7 linked regions of the Homo sapiens genome follow. The protein of the gene in region 7 interacts with the protein of the main gene of each other region in a biochemical or structural test. Each region holds a gene or a part of one and is shown on either strand. Other genes may lie near its edges.

Region 1 (4,204 bases), on a different chromosome or scaffold from region 7:
CAAGGGAAACTTGCCTGGCACCTGGACCCTTCCCCCAGAAACAGATCTCAAGTTGCCCAAAGAGGAAGGCACCATAGGAAGTGGGCGGCAGGGCAGGGTCTTGAGTTTGCAGATACAAAAGCACAAGTAGCCCTGCCCCAGATTTAGAACCTGGATTATTCTAAAGGTGCCACTAGCGTTGGGCTGGCAGGAGCCAGTGTGGGGCGGCCCAGGAATTGTGGCTAAATTCCATGCTGGGGTCACTGTTCTGGAGGGAACCCACAAGAAACCTCGGGTCCCTAACTACCGGGCAGCCCTCTCCCACTAGCTGCAGGGCACATGGAAGAAATATGAGGCTCGTGTGTTCCCACGCGGTCAGGAACTCCATGGGAGCCAGGCCTTGTCTGTCTGGTTCTCTGTTGCCAGACGCACTGTGCAGTTGTACAGGTTGTTGACATCCACCATTCAGTGCCCTGTCACCATCACCCCACCCTTCTTGGTGTCTGACCCTCAGTTGGTGCCAGCACACACTGGTGGGATGGAGGGCAGGGGAAATTGGGTGCAGCCTGCCACCCCTTCTCACAGACAGGTAGAGGAGGAGCCTCAGGTGTCCATTAAGATCAGCCTGGTCAGTCCTGAGCCAATGTGGAGGAATCCCAGGAGTGTGCAAGGCTAAGGCCCAGCTGGGTCTGGGACGGGGCAGAGCCTGCCAGGTGTGGCTGGAGCCTGTGACCAACTGGCCCTGCCTATCAAGCCCAGAGGCGGGCAGATCCTCCACCCAGCTCACTTGGTCTTCACAAAAAGCTGGGTGGCCACTCCACGTGGCAGGCTGCCGGGTTCATCTTTCCTAAGTCCCATTTTACCGAGGGAAAACTGATACCTAGGAGAGGTAGTTGGAACATTGGTGGGAGGGCCCTGGAGGGTCTCCAAGCTCAAGGGTTTCTAAGCTGAGACCTACAGAGACGCCCTGGCATTGTTCATGCAGTCAAAGAGTCTGTGCTTCATCTAGCTTATGTCCTGGGGTTCTGTGCAAATTCTCTTGGAATCTGCCGTTTAGAAAAAAAAAAAGTTTGGAAAGCACTGTTCCCTGTCTCCAGATGAAAAAACTGATGCCTAGTGAGGGAAGAGTCGTTTGCCAAAGTCCCAGGGCAAGTTAGAAGCAGGCTCTCTCTCTGCCTGAGAGCCCTGGGGGAAGCCCCAGGCATGCCACCTTCAAAGACCCCCTGTCCAGACCCAGGCTGCAGGGGTGGGGCATGTTGGACCCTGTCCTGGAGCCAGCCTTGACAATAGCCATGTCCCCTTTAAGCAGAGAGCCGCCCGCTGCAGTGGGTGGACTCGGTGCCCAGCCAGTGGGAGCTGTGAGCTTCCCTCCCACAGCCCCTCCCTGGGGAGGGGAGGGAGGGCCAAGCAGCGTGGCTCCCGAGGGAGTTGGTGGGCAGCAGGGGAGACAATAGCGAACATGCTGTGTGGGCTCAGCCGGGAGACCCCTGGAGAGGCGGGTACGTAATGGGGGGTCTGTGGGCAGAGTGATGGGGCTGAACACATAGATCCCTCTGGAGCTGCTGCCCAGAGAGAGGGGACTGGATGGCTGAGACCTGGGACTGCCACTCCCTGGAGACCCAGGGCTTGGGGAGGGTGGGGCAGGACACTTGCTGGGGCTGTCTGTCTGACCCTGGCCACTGTCCTGTAGCAGGATGGCTGAGCCTCCCCCAGGGCTGTCCAGCACAGGCAGGCAGAACAGGCGGGTCTGGAGGTTCCGAGGGCAGTGCTCAGCCTTGTAGGGGGAAGGCTGGTCCTATCTGGGTGTGAGCGAAGCCTTTTGCCCAATCTCAGGATCTGCACAGCTGCCTGGTGGGAGTGAGTGTCCGACCCAGAGGGGTGAGAGCCCAAGGCCCATGGGCAAGGTGGTGGTGAGGAGTTCCTGTGCTGGCACAGCTGGGCAGGAGACTGGTTCTCGGCAGGAGGAGAAACTCTGGTTTGGGGGTCTGACTGGTGAGCCCCTGGGGCTCTGGGAATGTGTGGGATGGGGGATCACAGCTGCCACATTCCTGGGTGTGCTGAGGCTGGGACCCAGGGGAGGGGCAGACACGATTGTTCCATCTGTCTCTCCAGCCTCAGCCTGGGCTCACCCTATTCCTCCAAAGAGGGAGCTTGGGGCCTGGACCAGAACATACTGCATTCACTGCCCTGGGGTTGCCTCACTGGTTTCTTCCCACGCTCTTGACATATCTTTGCACCACAGCTCCAAGGGCAAGGACTGTGGTCCCAGTGGACAGAGGAGGAAACCAAGGCTCAGGGAGGGCAGTGGCCGAGCTGGGATTGACACCCCGATGACTTTTACTGCAGAGCCCCCAGCCCTGCTTCTGAGGGCCCAGTGGACTTTGATTCCCACCTCCCTTCCCATGGCAAGGAGCAGAGCCAGGTCACCTCTGGACCCAGCCTTAGCGACCCAGGAAAAATAACACTCATAATCATAATAGCTGGCTGTTGTCGAGAGCTTCCTCTGGGCCAGGCTCTTTTCTAAGCTTTCTGTGCATTTTCTCATTTAATCCTCATAACTACACTGCCACTTGGGTACTGTTATTCTCTCCATTTTGCAGTTGGGGAAACTGAGGCAGAGAGCTGCTAAGTGACTTGTTCAGGGTTATATAGCCAGAAGTGACAAAGCTGGGATTTGACCCGATGGGCCCACCCATCCTTGGCAACTGCACTGTAAATGGAGGCTCTGCCTTCTTGGCCTGGACACATCTGTTCTTTCAACCCAAGGCCCAGGTGAGTGGGGTCACCTTGGTCTGCTGTGGTCAGGGCCACAAAGGCAGCAGTGCCCTGGAGACCTTACCTGGGGCACTGCCAGGGAGGTGTCTCCCCCTCCTCATGGGCCTGTGACCTCCACCTCGGCCCAGGGTCAGCATCAACTGCCTGGGCCTTTGCCCAGTCTCCTCCCTGGCCTGGCCTCCACCCCTTTGCTGCCATGGGAGGAAGCTTGCCAAAACACAAATCTGCTCAGCTCCTAAGCCTTGCATTCAAGGCCCTTCCTGACCTCTCTGACATTTTCTCTCTCTGATGACTTACTTGACCTCTACCCTCACCACTGTAGCCTCCACCCTAGGTCTCCTCCCCAGGTCACAGAACCTCATGATCACACTTGCTTCAGTTTGCATCAGCACCAAGGCTCTTCTTCCAAAAAGTGTAAAGATGGAGCTTCAGGCACAGTGGGATCCAGATGCTCAATTAACATCATTAGGACTCTGGGTCTCTTCGTAGCTTGCTCTGCTTCACTTTAGTGAGCTTCATTTCCAGGCAGACTCTCTCCTCTCCTTGAGAGTTCCTGGCACCTTCAAACTTAAGGTCAACCAGCTCAGTCATCCCTAAGGAAAGAGAGCCTATTTCCAGTAGTTCCAGCAAATGCCCCAGAAACGGCTCTCATTGGTCCAACTTGTATCACATGCCCACCCCTGATGGATCGCTGAGCCTCTGATTGGCCAGGCCTGGTCATGTGACCTCCCCTGTTGCTGGTAAGGACAGCCATATACCTCCACATTTGGCACAGAAGACTGCAGCCCTGAGAAGTCAGCCCACTGGCAGTGTGCGTCAGTGAGTGCCCCGATTGGAGCTGGGCTCTGTGGACCAGGCAGCCCTATGCCCTTTCTCTGCTCCTGATGGACTCTGGGTGGGTCCCTTCTCAGGCCCCACACCCTGGGCATGTCGTCTCACTCCAGGGAGTCTTGCTTTCCTGTCACTAACCCCAGAGTTCTGGCAGGAAGGGACTGTGACCTATCTCCATTGGCCCAGGCTGGGGCACACAGTAGGCCTGAACACAGATTTTGGCAGGAAGTCCCTCTCCATGTTCACTCTCCTGCCTTGAGGACGGGAGGCCTGCTCTGACTCCGCAGCCACAAAGACATCTTTGTTCCAGGCCTGCTAGGTCTGAGCAGGCACTTGCTGCCATGCTGGGGGCAGGGAAGTCTCAGTGGGTGTGGGTGTACATGTGTGAAGGTCCCCCTGCTGTGCCCTGGGCTACCCACTCCTCCGAGGGGCCCTCACCAGGCCTACCCCTTGGCTCTGAGACTCCTCAGGCAGGCCTGGCCTCCTACTCCACAGCAGGGGCTGTGGCCATGGGGGATCCTTCGCCTGAGTTTGCGTCCTGGCTCTGTCTCTTCCTAGTCTCTGACCTTGAGAAACTCATTCCACCTCTTTGATTCTCATTCTCCTAATCTGTAAATGG
Region 2 (3,500 bases), on a different chromosome or scaffold from region 7:
CCCCACAGAGTTATAGAGTGCCAGCCTGCTTATTCCACATGCTGTGGATGTGTTACCCCCTGTATTAGTTTGGTAGCACTGCCGTACTAATGCCACAGGCTAGGTGGCTTAAACGGCAGACTTTTATTTTCTCAGAGTTCTAGAGGCTGGAAGTCTAAGATCAAGGTGTCAGCAAGGATTGGTTTCTCCTGAGACCTCTCCCCTTGGCTTATGGATGGCCGTCTTCTCCTTGTGTCTTCACATGGTCTTCTTTCTGTGTGCATACATCCCTGGTGTCTCTTTGTAAGCCCAAATTTTCTCCTCTTATAAGGACACCAGTCAGTTGGATTAGGGCCCACCCGAATGGTTTCACTTAGCCACCTCCTTAAGGGTCCTTTCTCCAGATTGCGTCACATTCCCAGGAACTATGGGTTATCTTGTCAACGTGTGGATTTTGAGAGGGACATAATTCAGCCCATTACACCTCCTGTCTACTAAGTTTAAAGCATTTTGCTTAAACAACAATAACAACAAACCCTGGGTATGCAGCAATTAGGAGAACAAGAACTTGCAGAATAAACCAGTTAAGTTGAAAGTGTGTGTGTATGTGTGTATGTATATGTGTGTGTGTGTGTGTATGTATATGTGTGTGTGTGTGTATATATATGTCAAATTCGGAAAGATACATATTATGGTATCATAGCTCATCTCATTTTGTTTCTGTTTTTACTTCCTCAGTGTTGGAGTTTCCAGATCAAAAGATGTGCCACCATTTGGCCCACCGATTCCCAAAGGTGTAACTTTTCCAAAGTCAGCCGTGTTCCGGGACTTCCTTTTAGCCAAAGTAATCAATGCAGAAAATGCAGCCCATAAATCAGAAAAGTTTCGAGCAATGGCCACTCGAACGAGGCAGGAGTACTTGAAAGATCTGGCGGAGAACTTTGTCACAACCGCCACCGTGGATACCTCTGTGAAGTTCAGCTTCATTACGCTGGGTGCGAAGAAAAAGGAGAAGGTAAAGCCAAGGAAGGATGCCCACTTGTTTAGCATTGGGGCCATCATGTGGCACGTGATAGCCCGGGACTTCGGCCAGTCTGCTGACATTGAATGTCTTCTCGGGATCTCCAATGAGTTCATCATGTTGATTGAAAAGGATTCCAAGAATGTTGTATTCAACTGTTCCTGCAGGGATGTGATTGGGTGGACATCTGGATTAGTGAGTATCAAAGTGTTTTACGAAAGAGGAGAATGTGTCCTCCTGTCCTCGGTAGACAACTGTGCTGAAGACATCAGGGAAATTGTTCAGCGATTAGTAGTAAGTACATGTTTTCTATTTTCCCGCCATCCTTATGTTTTCAATTCCAGATTCAAAATAACTTTCACTGGGGAACTGCTACCATGATTATACCAATTAGGGAATGCATTACTATTTGTTACAGATACAGAGCTTAATTTTAAATGCTGGGTCCTTTTGGGGAGTTGTTGAATACATGAATGGTGGAGAAGCAACCATCATAAATCAATTGGAAAAGAAAAGTTAAGCCAACCTGCAAAAGAGAACATTAAGATGTATTTTAGTAGCATTTGAAGGAAAAACAGAAGTGTCTGGGTAGAATGTCTGTTTATGGAGGCTGACATAACATACCTTCCCAGTGGGTAATTAACAACAGAATTGCTGTTGACTGTATGAATGACGAGTCCTATCTGCAGTTTCACCCCTGCATGTTTATACAGCAGCTATTTTTGTTTAATGTGCCAGATTAAATATATTATTAATCTTAGAGCCACAGTTTCTTAAGGGAGTTTTTCAGAATTACACATTAATTTAGAAAGGCTTTTGAAAAGTTAGACTTAAGAAAGATTTTCATGTATGTGATTTTTAGTGCAAAACCCTTATATTTTATCCATGGTGTTCAGTAGTCATATTTCTGCTCCCAATTTTAACAAAGTAAGAATCAGATTTTAGTTTGAGCATATAAAATAAAGTAGTAAGAATAAATCAAACTACTTCTAGTTTTTATTTTTGGTAATATAAGAAAAAAACATGCTTTGACAATAGAATTTCTTGTGTGTAAATCTTCCCCCAAGAGGGATGTAATTTTTTTTTTAATTAGAAAAGGTTTAGTTCACTATGGATCATGAGAAAAGGAGAAATTATATCCATTTCTTGCCCCCTTTCCTCCCACCAAAAATATTTCCTCCCTTTTGTTATTAGAGACCATGTATAAGAGAAGGTAAAATCAGGGCAGTGTCTGCTAGCCTTGGAAAAGTAATTTCATTATTTGTGGACTCTGTTTACAGTAAAGGGCCTCAGTGTGTTCAACAGTATTATCAGGTATACGTGAGCAAGCCTAGATAAGAGTTTGGGGTGATTAAGTAAATGATTAGTTTATATACCTAGAGAATTGACTTGAATTATACTGGTGAGTCTCTGGATGCATTCTGCTTTTGCTAATTGCAAATACTTCTTTTTAGCATATCCACCAAATCATTATAATCTGTGCTTCTGAAAATACAACACAAATACCACTTCACCAACCACAAAAATGTACTTTCCCTGGATATTTACACATGGGCTTTTATACATTTGCTATTCGATGGACTCCATCCTATTTTCCTAGAAAAGTGTATTGTCAGTGTGACCAAGATGCACAATATTACAAATATATTTTAGGAATTATATTCTGTGTCTAGGATGACTTGCAACATGAGCTGTTGGAAACAAGCCAGACCAAAGACTGTTGAAGGGATTAGATCGTAAGGGTTGATGCAGAGTGGTAGTAACAGAAATGGGAAGAAAGAGAAGAATGCAGTCTTAGTGGAGATGTTGGGAATGCCTGCCCGTTTGGCAGATGGTTAACTCAGTATCCATTCTCAGGTGGTGGAAAGTGGAACTAAAGGGTCTGTCTTGCAGGTAACAGTACAGGAGCAGAATGAGAGTTTGTTCCTAGAGGGCCAGGCAGGGCTCACTTCACGGATGTGCAACCCATGCAGTTGCACAGGGACCCGCTCTCAGAAGAGTTCGTGCTTGGTTGAATGCTCTGCCATTGCCATCTTGAAATACTTACTAATTTTTTCATAAGGAGCCTCGCATTTTGATTTTTCTTGTGGCCCCACAAATTACATAGCCAGTCCTGGCTTGGAGACTACAATTTTCGTGTGATAATTGGGTCCATGGAAGAAGTCCAAATACATGGAGAACACCTTACTTCAGACTTTGGGGATGTTAGGAAGCAATAAACAGAGGGGATAAAGAAATAGCAAAAAGACAAAGTAGGGGAGGTGGCAGGTGATTGGAGGAAATGAGCAGAAGAGCCAGAGCTGGAGGACTCTGGAAAGGCTCAGCCAATAACTCTTCAGCCTGATACATGGATGATAAACTTCACCTGATAATCGCATTGATATTTGAAAGAAGGCTGGGTACATCTTATGTGTCGTCTTTTGATAGGATTGCTTAGAACAAAGTTGAAAAAGAAGTGACCAAAATTTATTTGTGTTGTGCCTATTACAGAACTACTTCT
Region 3 (3,500 bases), on a different chromosome or scaffold from region 7:
TCTACTCTTTATCAAAACCTCACACCCCGGGCCCTGATGGACTCTCCCATCGCCCCCATACTCACACCCAACCTGTGCCTACAGAAAAAGGCCTGGGCTGGCTCCCACAGGACAGTTCAGGGCCCTTACCTCCAGGCAGCTCCTCAGGTTCAGGTTCACCATGGAACACGTCTGAGTCATCCAGTTCTACCCTGAGGAAGGAAACCAACACAGGATGAGATCCCATGAGATTCCACCCTGGACTCATGCATTAGAATGGGCAATGGAGTAGGATCCGAGAAGGACGGTGTGGGCCTCTTCACCTGGCTGGTCTGCTTGGCAACCCAGAGAGGAGGGGGGCTGCTAGCTGAGCTTCTCTGGTCCCTTGCTCTACATCCCCCTCACCCTTCTTCAGGCTCAGCTCTATTATAGCCAGGTGGCAGGCTGTGGGGGAGCAGACAGGGACAAGAAGCAGGGACAGGGGGCATGTTCCTCCATCTGCCAGCACTTGGAGCTGTCTGCTCCCTGCTAGCATTTCCCTGTTGTGGCTGTCTACCCACGGGGGCGAAGGGCTTAAAAGCAGCAGGAAACAGGAGGTTTGGAGTGGAGAGAGTGCAGGGTCTGGAGGGCTAAGCACTGCACCTGCTGGGTGTGGGGCCCTGCTGGGCTGGCTCCCGGGGACCTGGGGGTGGAGGATGGACGGGCATTGGGGCAGCTCCGGGGTGCCTGGTGGCATTCCGCACGGCCTCTTCTAAGAGCTCCATCCATCTGTTGCTCGGCAGGAACAGAGAGGACTGTAGTGAGAGCAAGATAGCAGCACGCACCACCCCGTACTGAGCCCACTGGAACAGGGCTTCCAGGCCCTAAGAACCCTCTGCCTGGCAGGTGCCCACCTCCCTGTACAGTCCTCCCTGGCTGCTCCCTTGCGGTTATATTACTTGCAGCTACCAAATCCTGGACACCAACCCTCTGTTACACTCTGTGCAAAGCATTCTATGTTTTCCCTCTAAAGTAATCCTCTAACAGGTAGCATTAGCCACATTTTACAGATGAAAACCCTGGAGTTGGGAAACAGTCTGACTCAACCTGTCTCCTTCCACTGTACCATGCCACCTCTGGCAGCTGCTGTCAAAGAACATGGGCTGGGTGGGAGGCAAATGCCTGAGAAGGATGCATGAATCTAATCTGCCTAATGGTGAAGGGAGTAGGGCAGGAAGGAAAGAAGCAGCAGCAGCGGCTGGAAGACTGCCAGAAGCTCATTCTCCCAGAAGCGGGCCTGGTGACCAGGTCGGGGGTGATGACCCCTCCCAGCTTCTCTACTTCTGTCCTACCTCCCACTTCCTTCCCAACCCCTTGTCCAGGGACTGCTTTGGGGCCCAAACCTGGCCTTGCTACCCACTGTCCTCATAAACACCACCCTGGTCCGAAAGGGACCACAGTTACGGGTAACCCCTCAATCAATTCTCACGTGTTCTTGTCTGATGACGTCAATGCAACCAGCTCATAGATCTGGGGTGGGCCCAGCTTGGAGGTGCAGATGATGAAGAAGGCCCGTTTATCTGTGTGAGGAAAGGAAGGTAGAAGGGTCTGTACTAGGGATGGCAGGTGTGACTGCAGCCTGGGCCAGGGTGACAGAGTGGGACTCAAAGCCCTGACCCTCAACGCAGATGGAGAGTGCAGCACGAGACAGATGTGGATCTTCAGGACCACTTGGAACCCACTTACATAAGGGACAGAGGAAATTCCAGGACCCCTAATGTCATCTTCCACAGCCACCCCCATTCCTCTCCTGCTCTAATAACAGTGATGGCTGATAGGTGTATGGTGCTTAGGAGTTATAAAACTTTTTTTTTTTTTGAAACGGATTCTTGCTCTGTCACCCAGGCTAGAATGTAGTGGTGCCATCTTGGCTCACTGCAACCTGCGCCTCCCGGGTTCAAGTGATTCTCCTGCCTCAGCCTCCCGAGTAACTGGAATTACAGGTGCCTGCCAACATGCCTGGCTAATTTTTGTATTTTTAGTAGAGATAGGGTTTCACCATGTTGGCCAGGCTGGTCTTGAACTCCTGACCTCAAGTGATCTGAGTGCCTCGGCCTCCCAAAGGGCTGGGATTACAGGCATGAGCCACAGTGCCTGGTCAAGGGTTTATAAAACTTTTTCATACCCGTCATCCCTTTTGATGCCCACAAGAGGTAGGGTAGGTATCACTCCTATCTTACAGACGAAGAAAGTGAATCCAGAGAATTTTGCTCCAGAGCCCTTTCTCACACACACTACACTTCTCATTGAAATGTCCCTGTCCACTGGACCCAGCTCTGTACCGTGGGTACTAACATCTTCTGTAACCAAGCTCTGCCCAAGTCACTCTGTAGCAGAAAGGCTTGTCCTACTCATTCTGCCTAATCCCATTCTTCCCAATCCTGCTCAGACACTCTCACCCATCCTGGGTGTGCACATCCCATCCAGCACTGTGCTTGGGGACTGCTGACCACCCCTGTGCCAGGTTGTCTGTCTTCCTCTTGGTCCCCATCCTAACCCTCATCCTACCCCACTTTGGGCCAGTCCTACCACTTAGGCTGGGTCAGGACAGGAGGAAAGGAACACAGGTGGACAGGTAGGTCCTGTAAAGGCTCCAGACTGGCCCTGCCTCACCCAGCACTTGCTGGACATGGTCCCTGAGCCCCAGGCCAGCCTGGACCATCTCCCCAGGTACCTGTGGCCACAGAGCGGATGAGCACAGCATTGAGCTTGAGCACGGGGCTGAAGGTCTGCTTGCTGTCTGAGGAGCCCACAGCAGTCTTGCTGTGGCACTTCAGCAATAGCTTCTCATCCTGTTTCTGTAGCAGCACTAGGAGGTCCTCCAGCAGCAGCACGTGGAGGTCTGGAGGGGTATGGTCATGGGAAGGTGTTCCCTGGTGCCTACTCATCCCTCATGAGCACAATGCAGGGCCACAGGCTCTTGGAGGCTCTAGGAAGTCCTGGGAGTCTGGTGACCCCATTTCTCTCTCTGATTATTCCCTTCCCATGTCCTGAGCTATCACCTCCAGTCATGTTTCCATGCTTGGGAAAGACAGAAGAGCCCAGGGAGGCCCACCCACTACAGGTTCCTGCTCAGTCCCAGTCCCCTGGCACATACCCAAGGTCTTATCCTTGCTGATCCTCCAGGTCAGGGGTCCCTCATGGATCATTTTTCTGGTTGTAAGATCCAGGCTCTGTTAAGGAGACACCATTCATTCATTCATTCATTCATTCATTCATTCAAGTGTTTGAGAGCCTACTGTGTGCCAGACATTGTGTTAAGGTGCTGGGAATTGGTAAATAAGAAAAAGTCCTTGCCCTTACTCTCTTGTGCGGGATGAAGACAAGCAAAAAGGTAACTGTGAAGTCATGTGCCATGTGGCAGCAGGGGGATATACCAATGGCTCTGACTTGGGTCTCCCACCTGCCCCTACCACGTGCCAGCTACAGTCCCAAGAAGATCACATACTGCTTTTCCTGCCCATGCCTCCAGCTCTATTCCC
Region 4 (3,500 bases), on a different chromosome or scaffold from region 7:
TCCTGACCTCAGGTGATGCGCGTGCCTCAGCCTCCCAAAGTGCTGGAATGACAAGCAAGAGCCACTGCACCCAGCCTGTTTTTTATTTGATAATTAAAAGTTACAAAGAGAATGACTCAAATCTCTAAAGCATTTTGGTTACAAAAATAAGAAATTTGGTGAATCCTTTCTAGTTTGGTGTGTCATTCATCCGAGCCCTGAAATGTATTTGGTGTGCTCCTGTCAGTTATGAAATTAATGCTCTTGCTTATGAGTGTTGTTTTTCAGGGATCACAACTAAGGCCTAGCTCTTAAGTAGAGGAAAGAAAACATCTAGGGAGTACTATCAAACAGGAAGGTGTCCTGGGTATTAGAGATGGTGTTATATGCACAATGCCAGTATCTCTTTGAGTTCTTTTCTTAAAGTCATGACATTTGCCTGTTAGGATATACTTTCCATCAGGTCAGAGACCATGTCGGGTTTGTTTATGTAGAACCCAGCACATTGTGTGGCACATAGTTGGCACGCTCTTTGTATTTGTTGATTGAATGAGTGAATGAATGAATAAAATTGGCTTAGCAAGACTTAGCTGTCATGGATTATTCTTAATGCAACAAAACAAAACAAAACAAAAGCCTTCTAACCTAAAATAATGAAAAGTAGTGGCTACCTTAGGATGTCACTTTGCCTCTCTGTGTATGTAGCTGGCTCCTACAAGTGTAGTGCTCTCAAGGGCCAAGAAAGAATGTGAGGTGTTGGTTTTGATAGTCATAGCCCTGTTTCAGTTGTCTGCATTTACCCTGCTGTTTTAACTTATGAATTGAATCGCACGAGCTAATGTCAGAATACAACTGAAAAGGTTTTTTAAATGGGTGGAGTTGCTATAGAATTGCCCCCCTCCACACACATATATATAAGCTACGCTTTTCAATTTTTTTAACCATAAATACATGAATGACAGAACTATGTCCTAATAAACAAATTAAAATGGATTTAACTTGAACTCACTCTGCACTACCAAATGTGAACTTAACCTTAAAAATTGTGTTAATTTCATCCATGCCTTAGTTCTGGTTTATTCAATTGAGATCTTTAAAAAAAAAGATTGAATTTTGCTAAGTAATATACTAACTGAATTCAAACACTTGTCCAATAAAAATAAATATGCCTGAAAACCACTTGAAAAAAATCATGAGGGATTGAAACTTATTTTGTAGTTATATTCAAGTATCTACCTATCTTGGACATAAAGCTAGGGTGTCTAATTTCCATTGATGGTAATTTTCCTTAGAAACAATATAGCTAGTCCAAGTCTAACTGTTTGTGCAACTTTTGTTTACTTGCCCAGTGTGGAGATAGTTATATTTCAATATAACATCTTTTGTTTTTAAATTAATCAAAGGATTACCTTTAACTAAAAAAAGATAGAATAATGGGAGTCACAACATGGCTATAAGATTTAAACCCACAAGATAGATGGAGAAACATAGCATGAAATCACAGCTGGGTCTATTTAACAATAATGAAGAAAAAATTGGGGAATATAGTTGAGGGACTGCTGAAAGTGATTTTTGAGGAAAATTGGAGAAGAGCAGTAATTGCTGATGGACAAATAACCTGGCTTCCAAAAAGATGACAAAGGTGTTTTGGGAAACTATAGGGCAATCTATTTGTTGCCTCTTGGCCCATATATATATTTTAAAATATATATAAAATGTGTGTGTGTGTGTACATATATATATTTAAAAGAATGAGATATTGGCACTTAGAAAAGAAAGTGGTGATCCCAGAGGCTACGTGGAAAATCACTAAGAGTAGACATTGCAGAAGTTCAGACATATGTCATAGTCTCATTATATATTCATGACCCCACAACTCTCACAGACACCTTGTGGAAAATGTGGAAATACATAAAGTGGATGATTGCATTGTTGGATTTCTAGTAGAAACACTTCTCCAAGGAAGTTTGGTTCATGGTCTTGTTTGGCACTGTTACCAATATTTTGAATGAGCACCATAGAATATATTTTAACAAACTTTACAGGTGACTAAGCTAGGAGGAATAACAAATAATTTGGCCAACCCTACCAATATTCTAAAATTATTCCTAGCTTGAATGGCAGGTTACAATAAAAGAGATAAAATTTAGAGGAAATGAATGTAGCCTTCATTTATTAGATTGAATCAAATTAGAATGCTGATTGCATATTGATTGTACTGGTGTCTGACTGGAATAATCTGGTTTAAGAGTATTTTATTTGGAAAAGATTGAGGACTTTATTTATTAGGTTGGTGCAAAAGTAATTGAGGTTTTTGCCATTGAAGGTAATATCAAAGACTGCAATTACTTTTGCACCAACATAATAATAAATTCATCATGAGCAGTGTGATTAAATTATCAAAATATTATAAAAACTCTCTGGAAAATTAAATATAAAACTAGTTAATATTAATAATGTAGAAAAACACTAATACAGCATACCCTAGCAGGGATTATTTAAAAGATATTAGAATAACTGTATTGGTATATTAATCATGTTAATAATAAGTTTTAAAACATGATGAAAATTAAACTCAATACAATACAAAAATTAACTCAAGATGGATTAAAGACTTAAATGTAAGACCTAAAATCATAAAAAACCCTAGAAGAAAACCTAGGCAATACCATTCAGGGCATAGGCATGGGCAAAGACTTCATGACTAAAACACCAAAAGCAAATGGCAACAAAAGCCAAAATAGACAAATGGGATCTACTTAAACTAAAGAGCTCCTGAACAGCAAAAGAAACTATCATCAGAGAGAACAGGCAACCTACAGAATGGGAGAAAATTTTTGCAATCTACCCATCTGACAAAAGACTAATATCCAGAATCTACAAAGAAACAAATTTACAAGAAAAAAACAAACAACCCCATCAAAAAATGGGAAAAAGATATGAACAGACATTCCTCAAAAGAAGACATTTATGCAGCCAACAGACACGTGAATGTCATCACTGGTCATCAGAGAAATGCAAATCAAATCCACAATGGGATGCCATCTCACACCAGTTAGAATGGCGATCATTAAAAAGTCAGGAAACAGATGCTGGAGAGGATGTGGAGAAATAGGAACACTTTTACACTCTTGGTGGGAGTGTAAATTGGTTCAACCATTGTGGAAGACAGTGTGGCGATCCCTCAAGGATCTAGAACTAGAAATGCTATTTGACCCAGCGATCCCATTACTGAGTATATATCCAAAGGATTATAAATCATGCTACTATAAAGACACATGCACATGTATGTTTATTGCAGCACTATTCACAACAGCAAAGACTTGGAACCAACCCAAATGTCCATCAATGATAGACTGGATTAAGAAAATGTGGCACATATACACCATGGAATACTATGCAGCCATAAAAAAGGATGAGTTGATGTCCTTTGCAGGGACATGGATGAAGCTGGAAACCATCATTCTCAGCAAACTATCACAAGGACAGAAAACCAAACACCGCATATTCTCACTCATAGA
Region 5 (3,500 bases), on a different chromosome or scaffold from region 7:
GACCGGCAGTCTAGAGTTGATACGGCAGCTCCACAAATATTAGAGATCCAGATTCCTTCCATCACTGTGCTCTGCCATTTTTAGCTTATGGTTTCCATCCTCAGGATTTCTTCATGTCTGCATTTCAGGCAGGAAGAAGGATTAATCTAAGGAAAGGGCAAAAAGATGCTTCTCCATGATGTTAGCCTTCTTTAAAGAACTTATTATTAAATCTTTCTCAGTAATTTTTGCCAGCATTTCATTGACCATCCCCAGCTGCATGTCAGTCTCCTATTGGCCATATGGCCACTTCCAGTAAAACTGGAGTCTGTTAATAAGGAAGAAGTAAGAAATGGAATTGGGTACCAACCAGTAGCACATTCTTTTCTTTTGCTCTTAATATATTGTAAGCATTTTTCCTGCCACTGTGTACCACATATGTTTTGAGTGTGTAAGAGATAGCAGATATTTTGTTCCTATATGGGACACAGCAATAAATAAGACAGCTATTGCTTGGCAGAGGCAGGACATGAAATGATGTTGATGATATAATGAGAGTAATACATTTATAAGTTTTATTTGTTTTCAGTTAATTTCATTTGGTTAATTAGTTCCTAGTACTGATGTGTTAAAATTCATGAAAATAATTTTAAGTTAAACTCTTAAGTTTTCTAACTCTGTGAATCTGTGTTAGAAGGGTTTTATTTAACTGAAATAAAAGCTCATAACTGCTTCTTCGAGCTATTTGACATTAACATTCAGAAACAATCTAAATTTTCTCTAGAAAAGAATTTACCTGAAGTTTTAACATTAGAATTTGAAAGAGTATGATGAAAAGAACACTGTACCAGTTATGTTGACTAATTTTGATAAAACAAAAAGTTTTAATCTAATGCTATTACAGTTACTATTGTTTATAGATTGCAAATATATTTGTTCTAATGAACTTTACCCAAATGATATCCAACATGTGGGATTTTTCCTTATAATGACTATACCACTAAATAAAATCATTTGTTTGATCTTTTTCTAATTATAAAACTTTTTTCTTATATCTGAAGTCTGGCCCCTCTGTGGAGGAGCTGGTAAGTATATTGTTTCTGTTTTGCTTTAATATGTCACGCTGAAGTGTTCTTAGTGTTTTATTTGCATATTATATGTTGTCACTCATTGTATTTGAAAATAGCATTAATAATGGCAATTTTTTAATGTTCCAGTACCTGAAAAGTTCAGTGGATGGCCCATTGCTCTTTTCTCACTGCATGTTGTTAAACATTTTTCTTTTGTTAGTGATTTATAGCCATTATTTGCAGAGCCTGTCAATTTTTGACAATTTTTGAGCCTTGTAGCTTGCTCATACCTCTACTTCAAAGAGCAATTGGTTTTCCCACTTCAGGGTATTGAAGATATATCAAGCAGGCTTAGTTTTTAACCCCCTTAAGTTTCTGTTTGAAATTATTTCCAGAAAAGAATGTGCATGTTGGTTTCTTCTTCATCTACTGCGTTACAACTTTTCAAGAGTCTTGAGAATAATCGTATGGCCTTTGAAACAATTGAATTTTGAAATGCTTTAGCAGAAGTTATTTTAGAAAATAACAATACATTTTTAATATTTTTCTCATTACCCCAACCTAATCAAGTTCCAATTTGTCTTATGGCTTTACCTCTTTTGAAGATATAATCTTTGGTATCTAAATGTAAAATGAACATCTTGGGTGTTACCTAGTAACAAACAGGTTAACTAAGAACCAAGAAAATTTTTTTCTGGAAATCTAGAAATGGTTAACTTCAGTTTCCTTCATCTTATTCTTGCTTACCTCTGTTAATTTCGGGCCCAAGAGTTTGTCAGATTCATTAGGGATTTGAATCATTAAAACCCCAGTGAGTGGTAGCTTAGTATGTCTCCCACATTTCATTAATGTAGTATAAATAGCTCATTAAAGTAATTGAAAGTAGGTAATCATCAACATAAAGTTTATTTAGCCCATAAGCCAAAGAAATCTTGGTCTAGGAGTGCTCTTTCAAAAGTTGCATCAACTTTAACATGTCATAAGAAAGATTTTTGTTTGTATCTCCAAACTGGTTTCTTTTGAAACAGATACTTGCCCTTTTAGGACATAGGTTCTGAAATAAGAGTTTAATAATTCCAAAATTATGTTAAAAGGAGGATTCTAGATTGAGTTTTTCGAATCCTTTAAAACCAGTATCTAGAAATTACGTTCTAATCTTTTTTTTCCCAGAAATTGAGTCTGCTAATCTTTCATCTGTTTGTCATATATATAACAAATATTTTTAATCAAAGAAGTGATAAATATATCTAGCATTTAGTAGTTGTCATTAATTTTAGCTTGTATGTGTGTGTGTATATGTAAATATATTTTTTTTAGGATTATCGTATTTATTGACTAGTATTCAAATATATCTATTTTGATGTTGTTCAAAACAGTAGACCAAAGGAGGCACATTAAATTAGTACCAAAATATATTCCATGAATTGCTGAAAATTTGCTTAAATTTGTTTCTTAGCTTCTCAATATCCAGAATAAAAAGGGAAATAATTATGTAAAATAATCAGTGCCCATACAATAGAAACAATACTATTCATCATTTCCTCAAGAGAAACAATTTCTCTGGTGCTAAGGTAGGTTTTTATTTACGTCCTCACAAAAGGGACAAAGGGGGTATAGGGAATAATGTCTTCCACATATTGTGAACAAATGTAACCATGTTTTCATAGGATTTGTGGATTCTGTAAAAGCAGTTCTGCTCAGGATAAATGCAAGTTTTCAGTGTTTACGTGGTTTTTTTGATCTATAAATAACAGTTAAAATGTCTATTGGGGTCCTTATTTAACTCTCAAAAGGGTTTTAGAAGTAAATAGCAGATTCAACTATCCATTGAAGCCACTTTTACTAATATGTGATAACATGAGCTTAGAGTAGACTACTTTTCTTACTATACTCCATATCAGGGTAACCCATGGCGTGCAATTATTTTATCTAGAAGTAGTTCCAAGATGTTATGGTACTAGTTCAAAAGAACTACATCCAGATCTTTGTGTTCCATTTTATAGAGATGATACATTGTTGAACTGTAGGCTTTTGTGCATTTTCAGGAACATGGTCTAGTGCTAAAGAGTTTTTATTTTCATTAAATTATATGCTTTTAAAAATTACATAGGAAAGAGAGCTTGAGGCAAACAAAAAAGAAAAAATGAAAGAAGCACAACTTGAAGCTGAAGTGAAATTGTTGAGAAAAGAGAATGAAGCCCTTCGTAGACATATAGCTGTTCTCCAGGCTGAAGTATATGGGGCGAGACTAGCTGCCAAGTACTTGGATAAGGAACTGGCAGGAAGGTGTGTAAAAAATGGGTATTATTGTACTCTTAAGTGACAAATTGGATATTTAATGAGGTTGACTCTTACTTCTTTCTTTTTTTATTTTTTATTTTTTTGAGATGGAGTCTTGCTCTGTTGCCCAGGCTGGAGTGCAGTGGCATGATCTCTGCTCACTGCAACCTC
Region 6 (3,500 bases), on a different chromosome or scaffold from region 7:
CGCTGGTTCCCAATCACACGTCATATACTTGGCTTGCAACAGTTTTGTTGACTGAGTGACTGAATGCACAGAAGAATTAAGGCACAAATGAAGTAGATTGCTGAAAAGCAGATTTTCTCTTTTTTTCCTTTTCTTTTTGCTATTATTATTTTTACTTCGTGAGGCAACAGTAGAAAACCAGGTTTTTTGTTTGTTTGTTTGGTTGGTTGGTTTTTTTTTTTTTTGAGATGGAGTCTCGCTCTGTCGCCCAGGCTGGAGCGCAGTGGCGCAATCTCGGCTCACTGCAACCTCCGCCTCCCGGGTTCACGCCATTCTCCTGCCTCAGCCTCCCGAGTAGCTGGGACTACAGGCGCCCGCCACCACACCCAGCTATATTTTTGTATTTTTAGTAGAGATGGGGTTTCACCGTGTTATCCAGGATGGTCTCGATCTCCTGACCTCGTGATCCGCCCGCCTCGGCCTCCCAAAGTGCTGGGATTACAGGTGTGAGCCACCGCGCCCGGCCAAAAGCAGGTTTTTAATTCATTAAGGTGATCCGAAGGTCAGGGGTGGTGGGAATAAGGGGCTTAAGGCTATGCCCATCTCCAAAGCCTTGGATTTGAACCCAGGTTTGGAGGATGGTACTAGGGAGCCATCGAGTGTTCTTGAGCAGGGCATGGATATGAGAGCAGACGGTGGGTGGTTGGAGGAAGACAATGTGTCCTGGTGCAGTTATCCAGCTTCCTCTCTTAGAGGGGTTGACAGTGGGATTTCTCTGCGTTGCCCATTGACATTTGGGGCCAGATCCTTCTCTGGGATGGGGCCATTCTGGGCAATGCAGGGTGCTTAGCAGTATCCCTGGCCTCCACTCACTCATGCCAGGAGAACCTTCCAGGTTTATTTTTTTATTGTTTCATTTTATTTTATTTTTTTGAGTTGGAGTCTCGCTCTTGTCATCCAGGCTGGAGTGCAATGGCGCAATCTCGGCTCACTACAGCCTCTGCCTCCTGGGTTCAAGCAACTCTCCTGCCTCGGCCTCCCGAGTAGCTGGGATTACAGGCACCCACCACCACACTCGGCTAATTTTTGTATTTTTAGTAGAGATGGGGTTTCCCCATGTTGGCCAGGCTGGTCTCGAACTCCTGACCTCACGTGATCCACCCACCTCAGCCTCCCGAAGTGCTGGGATTACAGGCGTGAGCCACCACGCCCGACTTGTTTTATTTTTGAGATGGAGTCTTGCTCCATTGCCCAGGCTGGAGTGCAGTGGCGCCATCTCAGATCACTGCGACCTCTGCCTCCCGGGTTCAAGTGATTCTCCTGCCTCAGCCTCCCGAGTAGCAGGGATTACAGGTGCCTGTCACTACGCCCAGCTAATTTCTGTATTTTGAGTAGAGACGGGGTTTCACCCTGTTGGCCAGGCTGCTCTCGAACTATTGACCTCAAGTGATCCGCCCATCTCAGCCTCTCAAAGTGCTGGAATTACAGGTGTGAGTCACCGCGCTCGGCCTGGTATTGAACACCAAAATGTCTCAAGACGTTGCCAAGGGTCCCCCTCTGGTGAGAGGCACTGGCTTGGAGTTCGAGGTGCAGGGGCAAACAGAGCTGCAGCCAAATCCCTCAGGCCAGCTCACCATCTGGCCTCAGTTTTCTCAGCTGCAAAGTGGGCGCACGAGTGTTGTGTGTAACTGGGGCTGCAGCCAAGCATATGCCAGTAAACATGGCCCGGGAGCCCCATTCACTGCTAGGACTTTAACCCACTTATTTCTTTATTTATTTTTGAGACAGCGTCTAGCTCTGTCACCCAGGCTGGAGTGCAAGGGCAAGATCATGGATCACTGCAGCCTCGACCTCCTGGGCTCAAATGATCCTCCCACTTCAGCGCCTAGAGGTGCCTGCTACCACACCCAGCTCATACATATATATATATATATATATATTTTTTTTTTTTTTTTGAAACAGAGTCTCAGTCTGTCGCCCAGGTTGGAGACAGTGGCACGATCTCGGCTCACTGCACCCTCTGCCTCCCAGGTTCAAGTGATTCTCCTGCCTCAGCCTCCCGAGTACCTGGGATTACAGGCGGGTGCCAACACGCCCAGGTGACTTTTTTTTTTTTTTTTGAGACGGAGTTTCGCTCTTGTTGCCCAGGCTGGAGTGCAATGGCCCGATTTCGGCTCACTGCAACCTCCGCCTCCCGGGCTCAAGCAATTCTCTTGCCTCAGCCTCTCTAGTAGCTGGGATTACAGGCATGTGCCACCACACCCAGCTAATTTTGTATTTTTAGTAGAGACGAGGTTTCTCCATGTTGGTCAGGCTGGTCTCGAACTCCCAACCTCAGGTGATCCGCCCGCCTCGACCTCCCAAAGTGCTGGGATTACAGGCACGAGCCACCACGCCTGGCCCATGACTGTTATATTTTTAGTACAGACAGAGTTTCACCATGTTGGCCAGGCTGGTCTCAAACTCCTGACCTCAAGTGATTCGGCCGCCTTGGCCATCCAAAGTGGGATTACAGGCGTGAGCCACTGTGCCCAGCCATAGCTTATATATATATATATATATATATAATTTTATTTTTTTTTGAAACATAGTGTTGTGCTGTCTGCCCTGTCACCCAGGCTGGAGTGCAGTGGCGTGATCTCAGCTCACTGCAACCGCCGCCTCCCAGGGTCAAGTGATTCTCTTGCCTCAGCCTCCTGAGTAGCTGGGATTACAGGCGCCTGCCACCATCCTTGGCTAATTTTTCGTATTTTTGTAGAGATGGGTTTTGCCCTGTGGGCCAGGCTGGCCTCCAACTCCTGACTCAAGTGATCCTCCTGCCTTGGCCTCCCAGAGTGCTGGGATGACAGGCATGAGCCACTGCACCCTGCCTAAGATATTTTTAAAAATTTTTGTGGATGTGGAGATGGGGGTCTCACTGTGTTGCCCAGGAATGAGAGTACAGTGGTGTGACCATGACTTACTGCAGCCTCCACCGCCTGGGCTCAAGCAATCCTCCCAGCTCAGCTTCCCAAGTAGCTGGGAGTACAGGCAAGTGCCACCAAGACTGGCTAATTAAAAAAAAAAAAAAAGGCCGGGCACGATGGCTCACGCCTATAATCCCAGCACTTAGGGAGGCCGAGGGGGGCGGATCACAAGGTCAGGAGTTTGAGACCATCCTGGCTAACACGGTGAAACCCCATCTCTACTAAAAGTACAAAAATCAGCCGGGCATGTGCCTGTAGTCCCAGCTACTCGGGAGGCTGAGGCAGGAGAATGGCGTGAACCCGGGAAGCAGAGCTTGCAGTGAGCTGAGATTGCGCCTGGGCAACAGGGCGAGACTCCAACTCAAAAAAAAAAAAAAAAAAAAAGTGTGTGTGTGTGTGTGTGTGTGTGTGTGTGTGTGTGTGTGTGTCTGTGTGTGTGTAGAGATGGAAGTCTCACTCTGTTACTCAGGCTGGTCTCTCCTGGCCTCAAGAGATCCTCCCGCCTCGGCCTTCCAAAGTGCTGGGACTACAAGCGTGAGCCACTGTTCCTGGCCA
Region 7 (3,500 bases):
GCAATGGTGTGACCTCTGCTCACTGCAACCTCCACCTCCAGGTTCAAGTGATTCTCCTGCCTCAGCCTCCCGAGTAGCTGGGATTACAGGCGTGCGCCGCCACGCCCAGCTAAATTTTTGAATTTTTAGTAGAGATGAGGTTTCACCATATAGGCCAGGCTGGTCTCGATCTCCTGACCTCGTGATCCGCTCTCCTCGGCCTCCCAAAGTGCTGAAATTACAGGCGTGAGCCCCTGCACCTGGACTGTTGTGTTCTTAAAATGGAAATGGAGCACGTTTCAGTGTAGATGGGAAAAAATCTTGTCAAGCAGGGAGAAAAGGAACATGCAAGTGAAAGAAGGGCTACTTGAATGTTCAGGATAATACTATTAAGGAAAAACTTGCTAGACTACCCACAGACACCTTTGAAATCACTTCTTCATCATGGTGAAGACCACAGGAAGCTTTGTGCTGAAGTCTTAAAGAGCCAGCATTTTGAAAGAACATGATTCTGTCAGTGTCAACGTCAGGCAATAGTGCCTGATAATGGAGACATCTGTGTCATGATTGCCATGCTCAGTTCATCTTCACTTACTTTTCCAGGAGCTGATGAGGATGTAGAGAGTCCAGAGCTGACAACATCTCGACCACTTCCAAAGATACTGTTGACTAGTGCTGCTCCAAAAGTGGAAACCACGACGCTGAATATACAGAACAAGATACCTGCTCAGACAAAGGTGCGTTCTATTTTCCATTGCATTGCATTATCAGGTTATTACAAATGCTTCACTTTACTGACTGTACACAACAGTCCCTTTTGTATTATTTTCTTCTTTTTGGAGCTACCCATCATGAACTATGTACACAACAGTTCTTTTAAAAGACCCCACTTAAAATTGTGTAAGGACAAATGGTCTTCAGGTGGTGTTATAAATGGCTCTTCCTTACTCTTTTTGATCATTTTGGCATTTACCCACTTATAATCTCTGTCATCCAGGCTCAAATTATATACAACTATTTTTCACATGGCCCTCCTTCTTAAGGAACGTCTGAAGCCCAGTTAAGAAGTAAAGCCCTGTTTCTTTGGTTTCCTGGTTTGTAGGTTACGTAATTAGAAGACTCCAGGTCACGTCTTGAGGTGGTCCTAGTCTCACTAAGTCATTTCTCAGTCTTCCTAGGCCGACCATCAGTACTATGTAATCCTTGACCTCTCTCGATGATGATGAACCTGGGTACATCTGTATATATTCATTTTGAGAGCTGACTTATTAAGAATAAGGTCTTTGGCCTTAGACCTGAGTAAAGTGACCAGCTAATGAAAACTTGGAGCTTGTGATTTTGACCTCGTTAATATTGCAGTTAGCTGACCATCCACTAATAGGTAACCCACTGAAGTTAGAACATGCATATTAAAGTCTGGCAAAGACCTAAGTTTCAAATCCTGGATCCAGTCAGGTTTCTTAGCTTCTGAACCCATTTCCTATGGGCCTTGAAGAAGATGAAATGTGAGTGCATGTAGCATGGCACCTGAGACCTAGTCACCATTCTGTAAGCATTAATTGAATTGGTGGAGCAGAAGAGACCAAGCCAATTCACCAAATGAGCATGTGTAATAACTGTAGTGGTAGACTTTGCAATCAGTGCAGGGGTAACATATGGCTTAAGAAAACTCAGAAGCACAAGCATCCCCTTTTAGAGCTCACCCATCTGTTGATTAGAAATGAGATGCTGCCAAGCTTTAGCAGCAGACAGGGTATGGATATGGAAGGCTGTTTGATGAAGGTGGCGACAGGCCTTCCTTGGAGTAAGAATCATCCCGTCTTCAGGCCAGAATGCATGTGGGCTTTTCTTACCCTTGCCCCAGAGTACCTTTGTTCTTCCTCCTCCTCCATCCTCCCAGTGCCTGTGACTGGAATGGTGAATGGCACCGCTGGATGGGTTTCTGCAGATGTGGAACAGCCAGGAAGCCAGCCCTGTCCAAATTGAAGTGCTTTCTGTAGGACCAAGAAGGGTCAATTACTATTAGTGGTAGACTTCACAAGCCAGGCGGTAGGAAGGCAGGGAGAGCCCTATGAGAACTGAGACCGACTCACCTGGCATGTGCTGGATCCATGCATAAAAGCTACTGTATCAATGTTTCAGTTGAGTGAATGAAACAAAAAAAGAAAGGGAGAAATGAAAAGTGCAGGTGCAATTGGTGGTACGATGACTGCCTCAGAGTGTGTGTGGCACAATTAGCTACTATTTACTAAAGATGCATTTGGCTCTTACCACATTTTTATTTGACCACTTCTCTTGACTAAATCTGCTGAAGTCAGAGACAATTAGGACTCACTAGCTTGAGGGAAGCAACTCTCCTGGGTGAGTTTTGGCTTGTAGTGATAGAGAGTTCTATCCTAAGCAAGACTTAATTTGACATAGAGTTCTGTCTGGTTTGTTAACAGCAATGGATTGACCACTAATTTAAGTTTTTAAAAATTGGTTTTAAGGAAGTAATTGCATCAGATCGAGATAAAAAATGTAGAACTTTGGCAGGTGAATTTAAAAATTAAGGAGCCCAAAAGATTTTAATACATTTATATTCTTACTATCATTTGTGTTCAATATAGTAATAGTAGAAATTCATCCATTTATAGGAGATTTGTTGAGTGCTATTCATTATGTGTCGAACACTGTTTGCAGCACTGATAATGATAATATTGATCATGAATAACATGAATAATAATGATTAAATTTTTCATTTTGCTGTTTATGTGGTACAGCCGAATTGAACATTGCCTCTAGGATACCATTAGTGTAGATTTTGCTTTTCAATTGGTCTCACAGTGGCATTAATGTCACTGTTACGGATATCCTATCTAGTTTGTTGTAAATTTAAGTGACTAAAATGCACAAAAGGGAATCTCGTTATTTGTTTGAGAAGAGCATCACTCATAAGCTTTTACTTCTGTTGCATTTCCATGGCATCCAAACAACCAGACATGGATGTGGCAGATCTTTACTTGGCCTCATTTAATCATCCCTGCTGTCTTTTTGCGGATTCATTTTGCACATACATTCATACAAGAGTGAAGGTATTTCAGATTAGTTCCATATTACCAAATGGTATCTTCTTAGTCAAGCCTTTGCTTCCATACGATAAAACATTTTGACTTAAAAAATGAATTTTCCACCCAGAGCCGCTTGAGGCTTGTGCACCTCCAGCTGCAGGGCGGCTCCAGTTCTGTGGAGTCCTTCAGTTCCCACACTCTCAGATCCCTGGATTGCACGCTTTGTTCAGCCTGCCGGATCAGAGGCTGAGTCAGAGGAAACTGAAAAGATCAACTCTCTTAAATGACTTTAGGGACTCAATCACATGGTGAAACCATATGATTTGTAATAATAATGGGACAAAGATGATATGGATATGGATGAATTAAACTCAGTCTCTCATATTACAGTAACTACTTAGGTCCATTTCATTTCTCACCAGAACTTGTTTACCTCTCTCCCTAGTCACAAACCTGAGTATTCACCTATTT

The links.
Region 1: the proteins of SDC2 (region 7) and GRIP2 interact in a test that uses a peptide from one of them, tested with the Homo sapiens proteins (one large-scale study listed by IntAct).
Region 2: the proteins of SDC2 (region 7) and SIPA1L2 interact in a test that uses a peptide from one of them, tested with the Homo sapiens proteins (one large-scale study listed by IntAct).
Region 3: the proteins of SDC2 (region 7) and ARHGEF11 interact in a test that uses a peptide from one of them, tested with the Homo sapiens proteins (one large-scale study listed by IntAct).
Region 4: the proteins of SDC2 (region 7) and LIN7A interact in a test that uses a peptide from one of them, tested with the Homo sapiens proteins (one large-scale study listed by IntAct).
Region 5: the proteins of SDC2 (region 7) and GOPC interact in a test that uses a peptide from one of them, tested with the Homo sapiens proteins (one large-scale study listed by IntAct).
Region 6: the proteins of SDC2 (region 7) and TJP3 interact in a test that uses a peptide from one of them, tested with the Homo sapiens proteins (one large-scale study listed by IntAct).

Annotation. Positions count from the first base shown.
Region 1 is NC_000003.12:14,537,543-14,541,746, reverse strand, and holds the start of GRIP2 (glutamate receptor-interacting protein 2), read left to right. Parts: upstream 1-1,404; 5' UTR 1,405-1,438; coding exon 1,439-1,478; intron 1,479-4,204.
Region 2 is NC_000001.11:232,462,634-232,466,133, reverse strand, and holds part of SIPA1L2 (signal-induced proliferation-associated 1-like protein 2), read left to right. Parts: intron 1-717; coding exon 718-1,294; intron 1,295-3,500.
Region 3 is NC_000001.11:156,941,243-156,944,742, forward strand, and holds part of ARHGEF11 (rho guanine nucleotide exchange factor 11), read right to left. Parts: intron 3,192-3,500; coding exon 3,116-3,191; intron 2,861-3,115; coding exon 2,693-2,860; intron 1,539-2,692; coding exon 1,448-1,538; intron 748-1,447; coding exon 622-747; intron 192-621; coding exon 130-191; intron 1-129. UniProt on the Homo sapiens protein: May play a role in the regulation of RhoA GTPase by guanine nucleotide-binding alpha-12 (GNA12) and alpha-13 (GNA13). Acts as guanine nucleotide exchange factor (GEF) for RhoA GTPase and may act as GTPase-activating protein (GAP) for GNA12 and GNA13.
Region 4 is NC_000012.12:80,927,935-80,931,434, reverse strand, and holds part of LIN7A (protein lin-7 homolog A), read left to right. Parts: intron 1-3,500. UniProt on the Homo sapiens protein: Plays a role in establishing and maintaining the asymmetric distribution of channels and receptors at the plasma membrane of polarized cells.
Region 5 is NC_000006.12:117,575,012-117,578,511, reverse strand, and holds part of GOPC (Golgi-associated PDZ and coiled-coil motif-containing protein), read left to right. Parts: intron 1-1,040; coding exon 1,041-1,064; intron 1,065-3,159; coding exon 3,160-3,335; intron 3,336-3,500.
Region 6 is NC_000019.10:3,714,884-3,718,383, forward strand, and holds part of TJP3 (tight junction protein ZO-3), read left to right. Parts: intron 1-3,500. UniProt on the Homo sapiens protein: TJP1, TJP2, and TJP3 are closely related scaffolding proteins that link tight junction (TJ) transmembrane proteins such as claudins, junctional adhesion molecules, and occludin to the actin cytoskeleton.
Region 7 is NC_000008.11:96,601,813-96,605,312, forward strand, and holds part of SDC2 (syndecan-2 precursor), read left to right. Parts: intron 1-582; coding exon 583-716; intron 717-3,500. UniProt on the Homo sapiens protein: Cell surface proteoglycan which regulates dendritic arbor morphogenesis.